Linked DNA regions of Homo sapiens: region 2 is linked to region 1. The links come from fine-mapping of genetic effects on gene expression. A gene starts in region 1. The other region holds a variant in brackets. All regions are shown on one strand. Distances are from middle to middle.

The links. PIP is the estimated chance that this variant, and not a neighbour inherited with it, causes the effect. A credible set is the group of variants that fine-mapping cannot tell apart.
Region 2: its variant is the best candidate, but not a certain one, in a credible set for the expression of NME1-NME2 in esophagus mucosa (GTEx, PIP 0.72).

Annotation. Positions count from the first base shown.
Region 1 is chr17:51,150,458-51,161,062 of GRCh38, forward strand. It overlaps NME1-NME2 (NME1-NME2 readthrough), which reads left to right and starts at 3,102. Exons shown (of 9, transcript NR_037149.2): 1 at 3,102-3,205; 2 at 3,768-3,987; 3 at 5,194-5,323; 4 at 9,523-9,624. It overlaps NME1 (NME/NM23 nucleoside diphosphate kinase 1), which reads left to right and starts at 3,102. Exons shown (of 5, transcript NM_000269.3): 1 at 3,102-3,205; 2 at 5,194-5,323; 3 at 9,523-9,624. The coding sequence starts at 5,198. RefSeq lists enhancers at 2,415-3,614, 2,638-3,169, 2,953-3,372, 4,769-5,300.
Region 2 is chr17:50,310,529-50,321,133 of GRCh38, forward strand. No RefSeq gene overlaps it. Among named protein-coding and RNA genes, the nearest start is that of TMEM92-AS1, 28 kb to the left of the region's middle. RefSeq lists enhancers at 880-1,398, 5,645-5,774, 7,495-8,074, 8,075-8,653. The variant G/A (reference allele first, on the strand shown) is at 4,326.

The DNA.
Region 1 (10,605 bases):
GTGTGAACAGAGCATAAGTTTTCATTCCTGTTGGATAAACGCCCAACAGTGCAATGGCTGGGTCATATGGTAAGCACATGTTTAGTTTTTTAAGAAACTATCGGCCGGGCGCGGTGGCTCACGCCTGTAATCCCAGCACTTTGGGAGGCCGAGACGGGCGGATCACGAGGTCAGGAGATCGAGACCATCCTGGCTAACACGGTGAAACCCCGTCTCTACTAAAAATACAAAAATTAGCCGGGCATGGTAGCGCGCCCCTGTAGTCCCAGCTACACGGGAGGCTGAGGCAGGAGAATGGCGTGAACCCGGGAGGCGGAGCTTGCAGTGAGTCGAGATCGCGCCACTGCACTCCAGCCTGGGCGACAGAGCGAAACTCCGTCTCAAAAAAAAAAAAAAAAAAAAAAAAAGAAACTATCAAACTTTTTCAGAGTGGCTGTACAATTTTATATTCCTACCAGTAATGTGGATCCAGTTTCTATACCTCCTTAATAGCGTTTGGTGTATCACTACTTTCATTTTAGCATTCTGATAGGCATGTAGTAATATCCGATTTTGGTTTTAGTTTGAATTTCCCTGGTGGCTAATGATGTTGAACATCTTTTCATGTGCTTTCTTGCCTCTGTATATCCTGTTCAATGAAATGTCTATTCATGTCTTTTGCCCATTTTCTAATTGGATTTTTTTAACCTGTTGAGCGTTCAGAGTTCTTCAAATATTCAAACCTTCAAATGAAGAGAAGGCCTTTATCTGATATGTGGTTTGGAAATATTTCCTTCCACTCTAGCTTGTTTTTTCGTCCTCTTCAAAAGGTCTTTCACAGGACAAAGGTTTTAAATTTCTTTTCTGCAGGGCACAGTGGCTCACGCCTATAATCCCAGCACTCTGTGAGGCCAAGGTGGGCGGATCACCTGAGGTCAGGAGTTTGAGACCAGCCTGGCCAACATGGTGAAACCCCGTCTCTACTAAAAATACAAAAATTAGCCGGGCGTGGTGGTGCACGCCTGTAGTCCCAGCTACTCGGGAGGCTGAGGCAGGAGAATCACTTGAACGTGGGAGGCAGAGGTTGCAGTGAGCTGAGATCCGCCAAGGCACTCCAGCCTGGGTGACAGAGCAAGACTGCATCTCAATAAATAAATAAACAAATAAATAAATAAAGGCCGAGCACGGTGGCTCATGCCTGTAATCCCTGCACTTTGGTAGGCCGAGGCAGATGGAACACTTGAGGTCAGGAGTTCGATACCAGCCTGGCCAGCATAGTGAAAACCCGTCTCTACTAAAAATACAAAAATTAGGGCCAGGCGCGGTGGCTCATGCCTGTAATCTCAGCACTTTGGGAGGCTGAGGCGGGCGGATCACGAGGTCAAGAGTTTGAGACCAACCTGGCCAACATGGTGAAACCCCGTCTCTCCTAAAAATACAAAAAGTAGCCGGGTGTGGTGGTGGGCACCTGTAATCCCAGCTGCTCGGGAGGCTGGGGCAGGAGATTCGCTTGAACCCGGGAGGCGGAGGTTGCAGTGAGCCGAGATCGCACCACTGCACTCCACCCTGGGCGACCTGGCAAGGCTCCGTCTCAAAAAAAAAAAAAAAAAAAGAAAAAGAAAATACCGGGCGTGGTGGCAGACGCCTGTAGTCCCAGCTACGCGGGAAGCTGAGTCACGAGAATCGCTTGAACCCGGATGGCGGAGTTTGCAATGAACCGACATCGTGCAACTGCGCTCCGGCCTGGGCGCCAAAGCGATACTCGGTCTCAAAAAGAAAAAAAAGAAAACAGGAGAATAATGAAATTTTACTTATTTATTTTATTTATTTTTTATTTTTTTGAGACCGAGTCTCGCTCTGTCACCCAGGCTGGAGTGCCCTGGCGCAATCTCGGCTCACTGCAACCTCTGCCTCCCGGGTTCAAGCGATTCTCCTGCCTCAGCCTCCCGAGTAGCTGGGACTACAGGCGCCTGCAACCACGCCCGGCTCATTTTTGTATGTTTAGTAGAGACGGGGTTTCACTATGTTGCCCGGGCTGGTCTCGAATTCCTGAGCTCAAGTGATCCTCCCGCCGCTGCTTTCCAGCGTGCTGGGATTACAGGCGTGAGCCACCGCGCTCGGCCAAAAGTTTTAAATTTCAGTAAGTTCCAATTTATCAACTTTTTCCCTGTATAGATTGGTCTTTTGGTGTCGTCTAAAAACTATTTGCCTGGCCCTAGGTCCTGAGGATTTTTTTTAACTTTTTTTTTCCCCATAAGTGATTTATTGTTTTACATTTAAATCTATGATTCATTTTGAGTAAATTTTGTATAAGGTGAGAGGTTTAGGTTGAGGTTCTTTGGGTCTATATTCGTCCAATTGCTCCAGCATCATTTGTTGAAACGGCTCCTGATTCCATTTTTGTACCTTTCCCCCGTTCATTTCCCCTTAGAGCAGTGGGAATGTTTTTTTGTTAGTGATGATGTCATGCCTTGTGCAAAATCTGTATTAGCATCTCACAACATAAGATTTGGCTCTATTCTAACGGCATTTTCCACCACTCGATGTCCACCGTAATACTTGGCTCTCGAAGAATCACTGGGCTGGCTCCCTCACTTCATGCAGGTCTATTCTATTATCACTTACTCAGAGATTTCTCTGGCCTTTTCTTCACAGCACTTACAAAATGCGATCTATTACATATTAATTTGCTTATTTGCTTCTTGTTTTCCTATACTCCCATCCCTCCCAGAAGCTCCAAGAGAGCATACTGTTTTATCCCTAGGGCCTAGAATAATGCGTCCACGTAGTAGGTACTCAAAATTTTTTGCTTGACAGGCTAGAAAAGGTGAATAAACACAAAGCGGGAGCGAAAAGTCTACTTCTAGGTCAGGCACTCTTTGGACTTCACGCAACGTGTGAGCGCCACCTCTCGGGAAGCCAATTTGCTCGCGAACGAAGGAAGTGAGTCAGAGAACCCGGGGGTGGAGAGAAGAAAGCAAGCAGCTAACCGGAAAGGTCTGAAAAAGCTAGCGCCGGAAGTTAAACTGCAGAAAGTTGTTCCCTAGAATGACTGCCTACTCCCAAGAGGAAGCGTGGGCGAGCGGTGTTCTGCAAAATGGGCTCTCCGGCAGCGGATCTGCGCAGAAGCGTTCCGTGCGTGCAAGTGCTGCGAACCACGTGGGTCCCGGGCGCGTTTCGGGTGCTGGCGGCTGCAGCCGGAGTTCAAACCTAAGCAGCTGGAAGGGTAAGAGGTGTTCGGGATCCTGAGAGGAAAAAGAAAGGAGTGTAGTCGCGGGAGTGGGTTAGGTGAGGAGTTAGTGAAGAGATGAGTTCAGCTCTAAGAGGCGGCGAGGAGGATCGGATGGGAGGAGGGGCAGGGAGCGCCTGTGGACAAGTGCAGACCGGTCGGCGCACGTCCCACGCCACGTGGACTCGCCTTTGTCGGTGGCCGCCTTTCTCGTCAGGCCGCGACGACAGGGCTGTGCCTTATTTGTGTCTGTCGAGAGCAGTGCCGGGCACGGAGTTGGCGCTCTGTAAGTGCTTGCTGAATAAATGACGGGTGTGTGTGTCATTCATTCAGCAAGCACTGAGTGCTTACTGTTGTGTCACCGGGACCGATGTGGAGGGACATTTTTAGGGTGTATTTCTGGCGCTTTAGTCCTGTTTTCTCCTGGACAATTTATGCTTGCCCCGCACCCCATCGTGCGATTCTCCGCAGTCTTTGGGCTTTGTCTCTCTCTCTTTTTTTTTTTTTGGAAGTTGCAGAATGGTGATAAATGATTTTCTTTGCTCCTATTGACTGCTAGGCCCTGTGGCTAGGTACCATAGAGTCTCTACACAGGACTAAGTCAGCCTGGTGTGCAGGGGAGGCAGACACACAAACAGAAAATTGGACTACAGTGCTAAGATGCTGTAAGAAGAGGTTAACTAAAGGACAGGAAGATGGGGCCAAGAGATGGTGCTACTGTCTACTTTAGGGATCGTCTTTCAAGGCGAGGGGCCTCCTATCTCAAGCTGTGATACAGGGTAGGTCATGAGCGCAGTCTTCTGTAAAATGAGGGATCTGGACGGAATAGTTACTCTCTAGGCTTCCTTTCAGTATGATGTCCCGTATCAGATATTCCTAATGTCTGTAGTTCTCCCACACCCCACCGTTTATTGGCTAGTCAAAATATTCTTTGCATTGTAAAGTGTAGCATAACATTACAAGAATGGATTAATGGGTTGGGAATGCTGGGTTTTGGCCTTCATTCTGGTGCTGTGGTCCTGTTTCCTCATTTGTAAAATGAAGGGGGTTGTAAAGATATATTCTCTAAAACCCCTAATGCTATGGCTGTGGCATTAAGTCAAACTATTATTTCTTACTGCTTTGTACCGGACATCACTTTCACATTAGTAAAACTTTTCATCAGTGTAGTTTCTCCCAAGCTTGATTATTGAGAAAGATAGTGCCTTGTTTTTAACATCCTGTATCCTAGTTCCACCGCAGTGTTTGGTACACAGTAGATGTTTAAAAGAAGCTTATTAAATCAAATGGTGGCCAGGCTCATGGGGCTCACGCCTTTAATCCCAGCACTTTGGGAGGCTGAGGTGGGCAGATTACTTGAGGTCAGGAGTTGGAGACCAGCCTGGCCAACATGGTGAAACCCCATCTCTAGTAAAAAAAAATACAGAAATTAGCTGGGTGTGGTGGCACGCACCTGTAGTCCCAGCTATTTAGGAGGTTGAGGTAGGAGAATTGCTTGCCTGGGAAGTGGAGGTTGCAGTGAGCCAAGGTCGCACCACTGCACTCCATCCTGGGCGAAAGAGCAAGACTCCATACCAAAAAAAAAAAAAAAAATCAAATGGGGCTGGGTGTGGTGGCTCATGGCCATAATCCCAGCACTTTGGTAGGCTGAGGTGGGCAGATCACTTGAGGACAAGAGTTCGAGACCAGCGTGGGCAACATAGCGAAACCCCATCTCTAAAAAAACCCCACAAAAACCAAAACAAATGAAAATAAAATAAATCAAATGGGATAGAAATTATAGTCCTTGCTTTTGGATCCTTTCCCACATTGACATATTAGTTCATAGATCAGGGGACTGGGGAGGAATTGGGTTTTTACCAGAGGGAGACCTGGAGCTGACCTGACAGATTTAAACCAGCTTTATGGGATAATCCGCTTGAGACGGATGACGCTGTAGGCAAGTGATTCACTGCTGTTTCATTCCTCTACCTGCCTATCCCCAGAACCATGGCCAACTGTGAGCGTACCTTCATTGCGATCAAACCAGATGGGGTCCAGCGGGGTCTTGTGGGAGAGATTATCAAGCGTTTTGAGCAGAAAGGATTCCGCCTTGTTGGTCTGAAATTCATGCAAGTAAGTGGACTTCATTGTTCCCATTTTGATTCCTTCATAGTATAGGAGAACACTGTGATTAACCTGTTTCTCCCCGTCTTTCTTATTTAAAGTTCTCCACGGTAGAGTGAACACAAGTGTCTTGAGACCTGGAAACTCCTCAGTGCCCTAGCGTTTGGCTACATCTTGGAACAAACCAAGTTATTTAGGATTTTCCAAAATAGTCTCTGTAATAGGAGGTGCATTGCTACGGGAAAAGCAGTGCAGAGTTCCACATATGACTGCATCTCTGTAATTTCTGACTGAGAGCTGAGCATGTTTGAGTTCTTGGTCTTGAGCTTCCTGAGCAGATAATTTTAGAGAGATTTTTTTCCCCCTTTGAGACAGGTTGTTTTTTAGCAAGAAAGTCTTTCCATCATCAATTACTAGACACTAATAAATGCTTATTGTTTAGCATATATTAGGTATCATAGGAGCTGGTGGAGGAAAACTATGGTTTTGGTTTTGGGGAGGTTCTTCAGAAACAGCAGAGAGCAGATGTACCTGCAAGCTACTTACAAAGCAATCTTTTGATAAATGCAAAGGATTGATTGACCAATAACCCTTCTTCAAACAAATTCTAGAGATAATCCAAATTCTCGGCTGGGTGAGGCATAGTGGCTCATACCTGTAATCCCAGCACTTTGGGAAGCCAAGGCAGGCTGGTCACTTGAGGTCAGGAGTTCAAGACCAGCCTGGCCAACATTGTGAAACCCCGTCTCTACTAAAAATACAAAAATTAGCTGGGCATCAGGGTGGGTGCCTGTAATCCCAGCTATTCGGCAGGCTGAGACATAAGAATTGCTTGAACCAGCCAGGTGCGGTGGCTCATACCTGTAATCCTAGCATTTTGGGAGGCTGAGGCGGGCGGATCACCTGAGGTCAGGAGTTCGAGACAGCCTGACCAATATGATGAAACCCCGTCTCTACTAAAAATACAAAAATTAGCCAGGCGTGGTGGCATGCGCCTGTAATCCCAGCTACTCGGGAGGCTGAGACAGGAGAATCGCTTGAACTGGGGAGGTGGAGGTTGCAGTGACCGAGATCGCATCATTGCACTCCAGCCTGTGCAACAAGAGCAAAACTCCATCTCCAAAAAAAAAAAAAAAAAAGAATTGCTTTTGAACCCAGGAGGCGGAGGTTTCAGTGAGCCGATATTGCACCACACTGCAGCCTGGGCAACAGAGGGAGGGAGACTCTGTCTCAAAAAAAAAAAAAGAATTCCAATTCTCAAATCAAATAGGGGATAGTATGTTTTCTAAAAGGGAATCAATTTTGGACCCTTCTAGTGCATTTTAAAATTTAGTTTGACTTGCAATTTACTTCCTATGTGATATTTTAGAAAAACTGCTTTAGGGCTGGCACAGTGACTCGCCTGTCATCCCAGCACTTTGGGAGGCTCCGTCTCCAAAAAAAAAGAAAAAAAAGAAAAGAAAAACTGCTTTAATGTAAAAGAGGGTAGACTGATGTTCATGCTGAGAGGAGAATATGGTGTCCAAGGTCAAGGAGCTGGCATCTAATGAAGGTTTTCTTGCTGTATCATCCCATGACAGAATGGAATAGCAAGAGAGTGCAAGAGTGAGAGAGAGCAAGAGGGGGCTGATGTTGATTTTATAACAAACCCACTCCTGAGATAAGACATTAATCTGTTCATGAGGGTGAAGCCCTCATGACCTAAACACCTCCCATTAGGCCTCACCTCCCAACATTGTTGCATCGAGGATTAAATTTCCAACATACGAACTTTGGGGGACACATTCAGATCACAGCAGAAGGTAACATGAGATGGATGTGTTGTTGATCAGGCATTTACCATATGCTGGGCACATATGTTTTCTGATTTAGTCTTCATGCCAGCCTTGAGAAGTACTTACTCCTGTTCTCGTGGTTGTTAGTGATGAGCAACCTAAGGCTTGGAGAGGTTCAGTGATGTGCCTGATAGCATACAGTGATGCCACTGGAATTTTAACTTGAGTCTCTCTGACCCCTGAGTGCAGATACTTTCTCCTTTACATTGAATTTCCTATTAAGGATATATGGGTTTGGTGAAGAATGGACGGAAGGATAGCTGCCATGACTCTAAAGGGGCATTTAAATCTGGTGTGGAGGCAGGAAGCAAGGGAGAACTTGAGGTTCCCAACCCCCAAGCCCTTAAAAAAAGCCCGTGATCTGTTTTGCAGACTAAAGATAATCAGTTAGGGCCTGGCGTGGTGGCTCACACCTGTAATCCCAGCATTTTGGGAGGTCAAGGTGGGTGGATCATCTGAGGTCAGGAGATGGAGACCAGCCTGGCCAACGTGGTGAAACCCCGTCTCTACTAAAAATACAAAATTTAGCTGGGTGTGATGGCGCATGCCTGTAGTCCCAGCTACCAGGGAGGCTGAGGCGAGAGGATGGCTTGAACTCGGGAGGTGGAGGTTGCAGTGAGCGGAGATCGAGCCACTGCACTCCAGCCTGGGTAACAGAGCAAGACCCTGTCTCAAAAAAAGATAATTAGCCGGGTGTAGTGGTGCACACCTGTAGTCCTAGCTACTGAGAATCTGAGGCAAGAGGATTGCTTGAGCCTGGGAGTTTGAGGCCGCAGTGAGCTATGATCATGCCATTGCACTCCAGCCTGGGTGACAGAAAGACCCTGTCTCAAAACAAACAACAAAACCAACAAAAAGATAATTGGAACCAATTAATAGAATTAAAAAAGTATTCTGATAAGGGAAGGTCACCTCAGGGTCTGTTAGACTTCCACAACAAAAGTCTTCCATTTGGATAGGAAAGGACAGGGCGAGGGTTGGATCCCTACCACGGAGTGATTATATGGCCATGTAATTTTACTTTGGCAAGTGATGATAACTGGTGGCTGAATGATGGGGCTTCTGGGCAGCCAGTCTCCACATCTGTGTGTGTCTCTGATGTGTGTGATATGCGTCATACAGTGCAGTACCACAGAGCTGGAAAAACCATGGGACCCTGTTAGATTTTAACAAGCGTATATGCAGTACAAGAGAGAACACAGCCAAACTGAGTTGAAACTGCTAAGCAGATGGTTTGTTCTCTAGCTAACTTGATTCGTTCCCACATATTAGCCTTGCAGTATGAGAGGTTCTAATTCATTTTTCAGCAAAATTATTTATTACTAGATGTCATGCACTTTTGGGTGATTTGCAGATACCTTTGGTAATCACATGGTCATCACTGCTGGGCTTTTATCCTCTGAATAAACGTGAAGCATCCCTGGGTAATGGCCTGGTTTAGTTTGCTGCTCATTAAATGCCAAGACTTGCTTCCTGGTGTCCTTCTAACATTTTATTTGGGGTTTGCTCTGGGAATGGAAATTTATTGTATTGTTGATTTTCCTGTCTAAAATGAGATAGTTGAGGGCCAGGCATGGTGGGTCACGCCTGTAAGCCCAGCACTTTGGGAGGCGGAGGCTGGAGGATCACTTGAGTCCAGGAGTTTGAGACCAGCCTGGGCAACATAGTGAGACCCTATCTCTACAAATAATTTTTTAAAATTAGCCAGGTATGGCTGGGCGCGGTGGCTTACGCCCGTAGTCCCGGCCCTTTGGGAGGCCAAGGCAGGCAGATCACCTGCGGTCACCTGAGACCAGCCTGGCCAACATGGCGAAACCCTGTTTCTACTAAAAATACAAAAATTGGCCAGGCATGATGGCCGCCACCTGTAATCCCAGCTACTTGGGAGGCTGAGGCAGGAGAATCACTTGAACCCAGGAGGTGGAGGTTGCAGTAAGTCAGGATCACGCCACTGCACTCCAGCCTGGGTGACAGAGGGAGACTCTGTCTCAAAATAAATAAATAAATAAATAAAATTAGCCAAGTCTGGTAGTGTGTGTCTACAGTCCTACCTACTCGGGAGTCTGAGGCAGGAGGATCACTTGAGCCCAGGAGTTTGATTTTTTTTTAAATGAGATAGCTGGATTTAATTTTAATGTTCTGTGGTTTTATTATCAGTCAGTGCCAATAGGGAGACAACTGATATAAAATTGGAGAAGTACATTTAGTCCTGTCACTGCTCCCTTCCAGTGTGGAGAATGAATTGGGTTATAACAGAATCAGTGAGCCCAACCGCTCATGTTTTACATAGCAGGGTGGATGAGGGGAAATTAAATGGATTATATGTCCTTAGATGGTTTGGGGGTTATTCTCATTCTCTGTCCTGTTGAATAGGCTTCCGAAGATCTTCTCAAGGAACACTACGTTGACCTGAAGGACCGTCCATTCTTTGCCGGCCTGGTGAAATACATGCACTCAGGGCCGGTAGTTGCCATGGTGAGTGTGCCTGTGTGGGATACTCCAAGTATGCATTGCTTGTCATCTGTGCTAGGCTCTCTTCTAGACACTGGGGATACAGCCATGAATGAGACCAAATAGATACCTGTTTTCATATACCAGCTAATGGTTAGTGATAGGCTTCAGAAATGAAATATGCCCAGAAATGAATAGGAGTAGCAAATGATCACTTTAGATTGGGTGATCAAAGAACGCAATTTTTAAGCTGTGATCTGAATGACAAGAAGCAGCGATCTGAATGACAAGAAGCAGCCAGCCATGTACAGAATCACAGTGAAAAACATTTCCAGCCAAGCAAACAGCATGTGCAAAGGTCCCAGGGTGGGAATGAGCTTGGCTTTTTGAAGTACGGGAGGAGAGTTGAAATGCCCGAAGCCTGATGGGTGGGAGGGAAGTTGGGAGGTGAAGAGTTCAGAGGCATGGGCAGGGGCCTTCTCTCTTAGGGGTGTGTTGACCATATACTTCCTGAGTGCTGGGAAGCTATGGGACACTTCACACTTGGCATTTCTTTTTTTTTTTTTTTTTGAGACGGAGTCTTGCTCTGTTGCCCAGGCTGGAGTGCAGTGGTGCCATCTCGTCTCACCGCAAGCTCCACCTCCCGGGTTCACGCCATTCTCCTGCCTTAGCCTCCTGAGTAGCTGGGACTACAGGCGCCCGCCACCACGCCCAGCTAATCTTTTCGTATTTTTAGTAGAGACAGGGTTTCACCATGTTAGCCAGGATGGTCTCGATCTCCTGACCTCGTGATCCACTCCCCTCAGCCTCCCAAAGGGCTGGGATTACAGGCGTGAGCCACTGCGCCCTGCCCACACTTGGCATTTTAAGGAGGCTGCTCTGGTTGCTGTATGGAGAATACATTGTAGAAAGGCAAGCATGAGGGCAGGGAGATCAGGATCCTCAGTGCTGGAATAAGTGGATATACTCTATAAACATTTGTTCAGTGAATGAATATAATCTTAA
Region 2 (10,605 bases), 840 kb before region 1:
TCCCTTACTCAGGTATTGTTTCCTAAGAAATAAGCCTCCTGAAGGCCAAACTCCACCTCTGCATCTGCTTCCAGAGAAGCCCACCTGTGAAGCCCTCCCAGCCTTTCACTCCTCTCCGTTTCTGTTAACAGAGGATTCTGACTCATCCAGGGCTGAAGTTCAAGGACAGAGATGATAGAAAGAGAGGCAGGAAAGCTCTTATTTCACTGATGCTGCCATGCAGCCCCAGCCTCTGTGCTCTCTGGACTTGGGACATATTTGAAGCTGACCCTCTCACTGGCACTTACAAGAGTTATTCATGGGCTCAGTCCCCTTCCCATTGGGGGATTCTACCATCTTAGTGTCAGAAGTGGGCTCCCCAGACATTACCATCACGACCAACTGATAAGACAAAGCTGAGCTTATTGCTTCCAGCAGAGGTGAAAGATAAGGTCAGGATGTACGGAGAACTGGAAGTTTGGTTTAAAGTGAGTCTTTGGGGGAGGGAGAGTTGGCTTGCTTCAGACAGGGCAGAGATCACAATACAACAGTCCTGGATTGGTGGGAAAAGCAGGCTAGGATTTTGAACCACAATATTCAAAGAATCTTAGGGTTCAAACTGTTGATGCTTTCCACTGAAGAGCTGATAGGTCTTCCTGGAAGTTGCTGCAATGAACGGTTGAACCATTTGCTTAAGCAGGACAGTCCCAGAAGAGTAGAGAAATGCAAATGAAGACAGTGGCATAACCAGGTCATGTTACTCTAGACTGTAAGGTGTGATTTCCATTCTCACTGTCCAGGACAAGTGTGGGGAAGATGGTTTTGGTTCTGATTAATCATTGGTTCAGGAGACAGACACACCCCAGGCCATAGAATCACAGCACTGCTGGGATGCTCAGAAAAAAAGACTTCCTGCTGTTCTCAGTAGGATTTGAACTTGTAATATAAAGTCTGGTTGCTGCTGGCAGCCACTCTAAGAGGAGAGCCTTCCTGAGGGTATGGTCAACACAGAAGAAAGAAACCAAGCAATGGGAAGAGAGGAACTGGTCCTGAGTGAATCATCTGAGCCCCTGTGTTCAGCACCACCTATGCTGGTCGGACACCTGAGCCAGCACTCCGCTGCTTCCACTTAACCTGGCTAGGCCATTTTCTCCTATCAGGTGTAAATGGGGAATCCCCATGCACTAACAATGGGCCAGTGCTCCTAATCCCGGTGCCCTACTGCGTGTTTGCCTGGACTGGCCTGAGGCAGAGAGGGAGGTTCCAGTGATATTAAAGTGACTGTTGGCATTGAAGAGTCCCAGTGAATTACACTTTATGATGTTCTCTCCTGCAGCTCTGAACCAGATGAGAGATTGGCAAAGAAGCTAGGTAGATGACAATCACAATGTCAGCTTTGGCTGGATGTGGTAGCTAACGCCTATATTCCTAGTGCTTTGGGAGGCTGAGGGCAGAAGGATCACTCGAGGCCAGGAGTTTGAGACCATCCTGGGCAACACAGCAAGATCCCATCTCTATGAAAAATTTTTAAAAGTAGCTAGGCATGGTGATGCACACCTGTAGTCCCAGCTACTTGGGAGGCTGAAGTGGGAGATCTGCTTAAGCCCAGGAGTTTGAGGTTACAGTGAGCTACAATCACGCCACTGCACTCCAGCCTGGGTGACAGAGAAAGAGTCTATCTATAAAAAAAAAAAAAAAATTTAAATAAAGTCAGCTTTATTACTGTCACAGCTGGAAAAGAGCATGGCTTAGCTGAGCAACAACAACAGATTTCCCAACATTGTACCCCGGAACCAGGCTGACCTGTCCCCTGGTCACAGGCAGTGCTGGGCAAATGGTCCTCTGTAGCTTACTATGCTAAATGTGGGCTTCCCATGGGCACCCAGCTCCCACGCAGAGGGAAGGAGCTGGGAGGGCCTGCCTGGCTCCTCCGTGGAAACTCAGAAACTTGAGAATCAGATGTCACACCTCCTGCCCTGGGGAGGAATGAGGGAGAGGGTGGAGCGAGGCCAGGAGCTTAGCCTAACAAAGCTGCTTTCACAGGCAGCATGAAGCAAGATCTCAGGAGGTCTCCCGCCACCTCCCCAAGAACTAATCAAAAGCCCAGGAAAGGATTAAATCTAAAGTCCAAGTGGTTTTGTGTTAACTCAGAGCTGCTCCACTTCAGTGCCACTGACATTCAGTACCAGGTACGTCTTTGCCATGGAGGGGCTGTCCTATGCTTTGGAGGAATGGACTGAGCAGCATCCCTGGCCTCCACCCACTGGATGTCCACAGCATCTCATCACCCCCACCTCCCAGTCATGACCAGCAAAATGTCCCCAGACATTGCCAAATGTCCCATGGGGCTGACATGACGCCTGGTTGAGAACCGCTGGGTCAGGTGATTAGAAAGACAAGGATGGGCCCCTCTCCTAGATGCCACAGCTGCAGGAGTCAGGGGAATGCACCCCACCTGGAAAGGAAAGGACCAGAGGTGAAAAGAAGAGTGAAGCTGTTTCTCCTGGAGATAGGTGTGGTGGCAGGGAGTTAGTGGCAAGGCAGGAGTCTACCACTGGGTGGGCAAAGAGGAACACATGTGGCAAATCCATGCTGAATAAGTCTGATTCCGCAGGACGACTGAGAAGAGTTCCATGATGGAATAACGTATATGATGTGGGTGGCGTTTAGGGATACCAACAAGGGGCAGGGAAGCACCCTCAGACAAGCATCCATGGGGCACTCTTGCCTCCACCATGCCTGAGGGTAAGGGCAGGAGGCGGTCCCCAGGCTGTAGGAGAGAGCCTCTGGGCAGGAGCTGTGGCCGTTGGGAGAATAATGCCACCACTGCTATGCCCAGCCTGTCTAGTCAAATCAATATCCCACCTTACTTGTGCCTACCCTCTGATCTCTTATGGTGCCTTTCAAAGACCAAACCCAACTGGAAGGTGGGAAATGGGCCCTGGGGGCAGATGAAGATTACTCAGCACACACACCATGGAGTACTTTACAAAGTTAGAAGCAATGGATTAGATGCACCCAGGGCCACATGGACCGATCTCAGAAATATAAGAATGGGTGAAACAAACAAGCAACAGAATGAGATATATAACCCGATAGCATTTGTGAACATTTAAAATGTATGCCTAGAAAAAATACAAAACATCAATACTCCCTGTACAAGAATACATGCAAATGAAAGACTCACAGATTATGAGCCTATGGCCAGGCGCGGTGGCTCATGCCTGTAATCCCAGCACTTTGGGAGGCCGAGGCAGGCGGATCACTTTGAGCCCAGGAATTTGAGACCATCCTCGCCAACATGGCAAAACCCTGTCTCTACAAAAAATACAAAAATTAGCTGGCATTGGTGGCATGTGCCTGTAGTCCCCAGCTACTTGGGAGGCTGAGGCCAGAGGATCACTTGAGCCTGGGACCAGGCAGAGAATGCAGGAGCCGTGATCATGCCACTGAACTCCAGCCTGGGCAACAGAGCAAGACCCTGCCTCAAAAACAAAAAAAGAACATGTGCCTATGATGGGGAGGGGCTGGAGACTGGGATAGGATATGTGGATAAAAGAGAATAATTACAAACAAGAGAGGGGACTTACATGGACTAGTGATGAGAAAGTGCCATGAACTAAGGCATATGATTAACTAACTCAAATGTCTGCAAATGAAGTTTAAAAACAGCGGGGAAAGAAAAGGAAGGGAAGAAGGAAGAGGGAAGATAGCCCATCAGCCCTGTCCAGCATGTCTTGGGGGAGAGGAGTCGGGGTGGGAGCCCCTCAGGGGCGCTCAGTCTCTGGTCTGGAGGGGCGCAATCCCAGATGGGGAAGGAGTTGCCTCAGGGAGCCTCTCAGAACTTCCTTTTCACTTTTATAAAAATGGGAGACACATCAAGAGATTGTACAAGGGCAAATGCCGTCCTCATTTCCCAAAATGATTCTAGAATTTTAAGCCACCAATCTTGACACCTTTGATTTTGGAATGAATTCAAGTCCAAAGACCCGAATGGAGCCCCGACTTTGTATCCAGCCGGGTATGAATCATCCAACAGATGGTGGGTGCACATTTAGAAACCAGCCCGGTGAGCCCTCAGAGACAGGCTCTTAAGACAGCCCTGCCAAGCTAAGCTGATGTTCTCTTCTGACATCAGAGAATTTGTGGGTTCTACTCTTTCTGGCTTCAGGGATTAGCTGTGGCTCCACAAATTCAAGTCATGGGGAGTGGGGAGGTGGCAACTGTCAGAACAGGAAAGCAGATGTTAGGTGCTAGCTCAGCCTGAGTCACATGTCCATGCTGGAGCAGAAGCCAGTGGGCACTGTGATTGACAGCACCCTCACCAGGACTCCAGGGAGGTGGGC[G/A]CACTTGCTGCAAAACAGGGGTGCTAATACCGGAAGAAGGCTGATGAGCACACAAAACCAATAACTATGACAGCCCTCTAGGATCCCCTTGGAAGTGGGGATGAGATGTAGGGGAGTGGAGGAAGAATTTCATCTTTTTTTTTTTTTGAGACAGGGTCTTGCTCTGTCTCCCAGGCTGGAGTGCAGTGGTGCAACCTCCCAGGCTCAATTGATCCACCCACCTCAGCCTCCTAAGTTGCTGGGACTACAGGTACTCACCACCGCAACCAGCTAATTTTTTTATTTTCGTAGAGACGGGGTTGCTCAGGCTGTCTTGAACTCCTGGACTCAAGTGATCTGCCCGCCTCGGCCTCCCAAAGTGCTGGGATTACAGGCGTGAGCCATAACGCCTGGCCCCTATTCTTACTTGTAACAAAACAGGCATTTTTGGTTATTTTAATCTACTATTGCCTTTTATACTGGATTTCTGTCACTCGCAATCAAAAGAATCCTGACTGTTCTACAAGCAATATGGGGGGGGGAAATCATTTTTGTGTTTAATTTCAGTATCCATGTGCTTTGCCATAAATGTTTTTTAAGAATTTTAAACTATTTTGGCCAGGTGCAGTGGTTCACGCCTGTAATCCCAGCACTTTGGGAGGCCGAGGCAGGTGGATCATGAGGTCAGGAGATTGAGACCATCCTGGCTAACATGGTGAAACCCCGTCTCTACTAAAAATACAAAAAAACAGCTGGGTGTGGTGGCAGGCGCCTGTAGTCCCAGCTGCTAGGGAGGCTGAGGCAGGAGAACGGCGTGAACCTGGGAGGTGGAGCTTGCAGTGAGCTGAGATCACGCCACTGCACTCCAGCCTGGGTGACATAGCAAGACTCCGTCTCAAAAAAAAAAAGAATTTTAAACTATTTTAAGGGTTTTTTTTTTAAATTTTGGTGGTTAATTCTTAATTATGACATGCATTTTAAAGATACGCTTTCAGTGGTTTATCATATTTTCTCTTTTCCACATAAAACTTTTGAATTATTTATTGGCAAATGTGACTTGTTTAAAGTGTTAATTTCATGCTTTTGCAGGTGTACATTTAGAAATGAGCACAGTGAGCCTGCAGAGACAGGCTCCTAAGACAGCCCTGCCAAGCTAAGCTGATGTTCTCTTCTGAGACCAGGGAATTTGTGGGTTCCACTCTTTCTGGCTTTGGGGAGACTGTCTGACTACAGAAATATTGGCCACCTAAAGAATTTAGGTCCTTGCCACTCGGACAAGCATGACCAGCCCCAGTTCCCACAAAGAAACATCTGTCTTGCTTCATGTCATGGAGTTGCTTGTATAGTTTAAGTTTCGAGTACTTGTCTGAGCAAGTCTGTCTTTTCATGGATGGCTGAAAATGCTTTATGAAGACGTACACTTCACAAGAGTTAATAGCAGAAAGCACTGTGTCAAAACCCAAGACATAAATGTAATTAAAATCACATTGTATTTCCTGTTGGTTGCTGAAGTAGACATTAAGAAAGTCTTATCTTTAATAGTACATTTAAAATTCCCTGTCATAGAAAATTATCTTTAAATGATAGCTCAGAAAAGAAATACAAAAAGCTCTCATGCCATTTATTATTAATGTGATTTATGTTAAGTCTGTCAGTGGAATGCTGAAAATGTGCCAATGAGTTAGCTCAAGAAATGATGCAAAATTAAATATTAATGAAGCACTCAAACAAGCACCAATTACACTGCAGTATAAGCTTGTAAATATTTCCATAAGTAATTTTCAGTCCGTATTCAGGTAGCACTATGGAGCAAGAAAAGAACCATCATTAATTTATGCAGAAACCTTTTTTACTAATAAATTTTCCAAATCACAAATTTAATTTTAGCTTTTGATTTTTAAAAAGGCAATAAACTGTTAAAGTTTGTACTTGAATTCATGGATACTCTTTTTTTTTTTTTTTTAAAGATGGGGTCTCACTATGTTGCCCAGGCTGGTCTTGAACTCCTGGGCTCAAGTAATCCTCCCACATTGGCCTCCCAAAGTGCTGAGATTACAAGCATGAGCCACTGTGTCTGGCCTTTTCTTTTCTTTTCTTTTTTCTGACACAGGGTCTCACTCTGTCACCCAGGCTGGAGTGCAGTAGTACAATCATGGCTCACTGAAGCTTTGATCTCCTGGGCTCAAGTGATCCTTCCACCTCAGTCTCCCGAGTAGCGGGGACTACAGGCGTGCACCATTATGTCCAGCTGATTTTTTTAAATTTGTAGTAGAGATGAGGTCTCACTATGTTGCCCAGGTTGGTCTTGAACTCAGCTCAAGCAATCCTCCCTTGTCAGCCTCCCAAAGTGTTGGGATAACAGGCCTGAGTCACCATGCCCAGCCCATGGAGAGTCTTTATGTTGCAAGTGATAGAAAGCCCAATTCACATGGTTTAAACAAGGAGAATTTGCCTGCATGCTTTAGAGAAAAGTGCAAATAAAATGCCGCTTCAGGCAAGATTTTATCCAGCAGCAGAAATCCCAACTCACGTGGCTTAAACAAAGAGAACTTGCCTACATGCTTACCTGAAATGTATACTTGAAATGTGGCTTCAGGCAGGATTTCATCCTGCAGCTCAAAGGATGTCACCAAGAACCTGGTGTCTTTATGCCCTTCCTCTCTGTCTTCTGCTGGGTCAACCCCTTCCTCAGGTCAGTGGCTCCTAGAGTGCACTACCTCTCTCTCTCCCCTTCAAAACCAGACCACTCATTCTCCAGCTGTAGGGAAGATTGGCTGCTGATGGCTCACAGCTCTCGCAGCTGAGCCTTCAGGCATTGTTTCATGTTCATAAATGCCCAGGCTTTATTTATTCCCATCCAAAGACTATCCTCCGCCTAGCCCAAGCTTTATGTGATCTGCCAATGATTGGTCAGTGCAGAAGTACAAAAGCGTAGTCCTCCTGCCTAGATCTGAGACAACTCTGAAGGGCCACCTCAGGTCCAAAGCTCCCTTTAGCATCAGTTGAGGCTGTGCTGCAACTGCAACCCAGTTCCACTTTTCCACTTCTCCCTCTGCTCAACCTGCTTCGTTTACTACCTTACAAGTATTGTTTCTGAGACCATGGCCCAGTCACTTCCAGCGTGTAAATATCCATCACAAATCTATTGGCAGGGAGGGACCCAGACATGAGGCAGCTGAGGCCAGGAGTAATTTTTAGGAAGCAGATTCTAAAATAGGTGTTTGGAGCTGGAAGGTGGAGCAATAATTGCCCCTGGCATTCTAGCGTGGTGTACTTGTTTAAACTTTCACTGGGGATGTGCAGGAATGATGGGAAACTGATGGAAGGGAGGCACTGGTGGAAGCAAATTCCCAGGCATTTGAGAGGTTTGAGTGAACTAGTAATATAAGGACTGTGAAATCAGATGGCTCTGGGGCTAGCAATGCTTAAAGGAAGACAATGAAAGTTTGAGAGTACTTAATCATCAGTTTGAGACAAAGTGTGAAAGTCTCTTGGCAGCATATAGAGACTCTGTAGCTGGAGGGCAGAAAAAGCTAAGGATCAGCCCGAAGCTTCATTATAAGGGTAATGCAGCTTCAGAGAGGTTGGATTCTCAATCAGAGCACGTCCGCTCTGTCAGGTCATACCCCAGTAGAGAAGGATCAGAACTCAGAGACTTGGGATGGCACATCTGGGTCAATGCACTAAAAAAATCTTGAATCTCCAGATTCCACTGAACCCACTGGGCCTGCAGAAGCGGCCCCCTGCCCACTGTTAAGGGCTAAAACTCCCCTCATGCTTGAAGATAGTGCAGGGCCTCTGCTTTGCAAGATGAAATGCACCTCCCTCCTGGCCACCAGACAAATAGCTATCAAGTCACAACAAAACCGGCCAGGGATGCGCCAGACCTGCTGCTGAGGAAGGAATGAGACTGTACCCTGGAGGAGCTGCAGGAACTTGCCAACATGTGCTGGCAGGATTCAGGAGAGTAGAGATGGGACTGGATTCTGAGGATGAGGATCAAAACATAGAGCTTGATAGGAAAGAATATTGAATAGGAGTGTGCTCCTGTGATGCAGGATTTTACCCCCTGGCAAGGACCCCAGGAGAAGGTGCTAGAATGGCTCTTGGAAGCCTAGAAACAGCACTGGCTCAAACTAAGTTAAGGAGAAAAGTTCAAACAGCATGGCAGATGGCAGAAGGGATCAAATGGATCAAAGGAGAGGGTTTGCTCAACCGGATCAGCCTGTGTCGGGCCTGCAAATTCCCCAGCTGACTATGTTCCCTGGGAGAGCCCATAAATCACTCTTTTACCAAAGCAGTAAAGAAGGTGCTGGTGGAGGAGGAGCAGCAGCATCGAGAAGTCTATCGTTGGCCATTCTCGGGGAGGCCGTGAGGGTGGGAGATGCTGTTACAGAGCGGGGTGGTGGGGGTGGGGGGAGCTGATAGTAATAGGGATAAGAGGAGCCCAAAATAATCAAGGCCAAGTGGCAGTGTTACAGGAGAGGGGTCCCGATCCAGACCGCAAGAGAGGGTTCTTGGATCTCACGCAAGAAAGAATTCAGGGTGAGTCTGTAGAGTAAAGTGAAAGCAAGTTTATTAAGAAAGTAGAGGAATAAAAGAATGGCTACTCCATAGACAGAGCAGCCCCGAGGGTGGCTGGTTGCCCATTCTTATGGTTATTTCTTGATGATATGCTAAACAGGTGGTGGATTATTCATGCCTCCCCTTTTTAGACCGTATAGGGTAACTTCCTGACATTGCCACGGCATTTGTAAACTGTCATGGCGCTGATGGTAGTGTAGCTGTGAGGACGACCAGAGGTCACTTTCATCACCATCTTGGTTTTGGTGGGATTTAGCCGGCTTCTTTACTGAAAACTGTTTTATCAGCAAGGTCTTTATGATCTATATCTTGTGCCAACCTCCTATCTCATCCTGTACTTAGAATGCCTAACTGTCTGGGAATGCAGCCCAGTGGGTCTCATTTTACCCGGCCCCTATTCAAGATGGAGTTGCTCTGGTTTCAACGCCTCTGATAGCAGCACTTATCTGTCAGAAGGTGGGCACGATTCTCACACTGAGCAGCAAGGTCAGGGAGGCAGCCAGAGGTCCTGCTGCAGAGAACTAAGTAAATGGTGTTTTTTTCCTTTCTTTTTTAAGATATATTTTTAATAGTAAAGATGGGGTTTCACCGTGTTGCCCAGACTGGTCTTGAACTCCTGCACTCAAGTGATCTGCCCGCCTTGGCCTCCCAAAGTGTTGGGATTACAAGTATGAGCTACCATGCCAAGCCGGAAATGGTTAATAGAACATAATATTCCTAGTGGTAAGATAGATGAGCAGCCAAAAACAGCTTATTTTATTTTATTTTTTTAATTTATTTTGAGACAGAGTTTTGCTCTTGTTGCCCAGGCTGGAGTGCAGTGGTGTGATCTCAGCTCACCACAACCTCCACCTCCAGGGTTCAAGCGATTCTCCTGCCTCAGCCTCCCAAGTAGCTGGGATTACAGGCATGCACCACCAAGCCCAGCTAATTTTGTATTTTTAGTAGAGATGGGGGCTTTTCCTTGTTGGTCGGGCTGGTCTCAAACTCCTGACCTAAGATGATCCGCCTGCCTCAGCCTCCCAAAGTGTTGGGATTACAGGCATGAACCACCGCGCCCGGCCCAAGAGCTTATTTTAAAACATCAACCACCCAACAAAAAGTCATGATTCCTTGTCCTGTTTCCAGCCTAAGTTAAGATCTAGAACGTCCTGAATGAAGAAAGACACTGCATCAGCTGGCATATGGACAGGATAAGGTTCCACCAGCCCTTCCACAGGGAGAACTTGAGTAATCATACACTGGGGAAAGAATGCAGATCTTTTGAGAACTGTTGAACATAGAGTCCAAATTGACATTGATACCAAGGAAACTGAAGCATCATCACGGCACCTTATTAGGGTGGTGGAATATGGGGTCAAGTAATAAGTATAGTCCCAGCCATGACCAGCTTCACAGTATGTCCATTAGGTCCACAGACCCACCTGGTAGTCATTTTCCTGGTCTCTCTCTCTTTATTTATTTATTTATTTATTTATTTTTTTGAGACAGAATCTTGCTCCGTCACCCAGGCTGGAGTGCAGAGGTGCGATCTCAGCTTACTGCAACCTCTGCCTTCCGGGATCAAGCGATTCTCCTGCCTTAGCCACCAGAGTAACTGAGATTACAGGCAGGCGCCACCATGCCCAGCTAATTTTTGTATTTTTAGTAGAGATGGGGTTTCTCCATGTTGCCCAGGCTGGTCTCAAACTCCTGGCCTTAAGTGATCCGCCCGCCT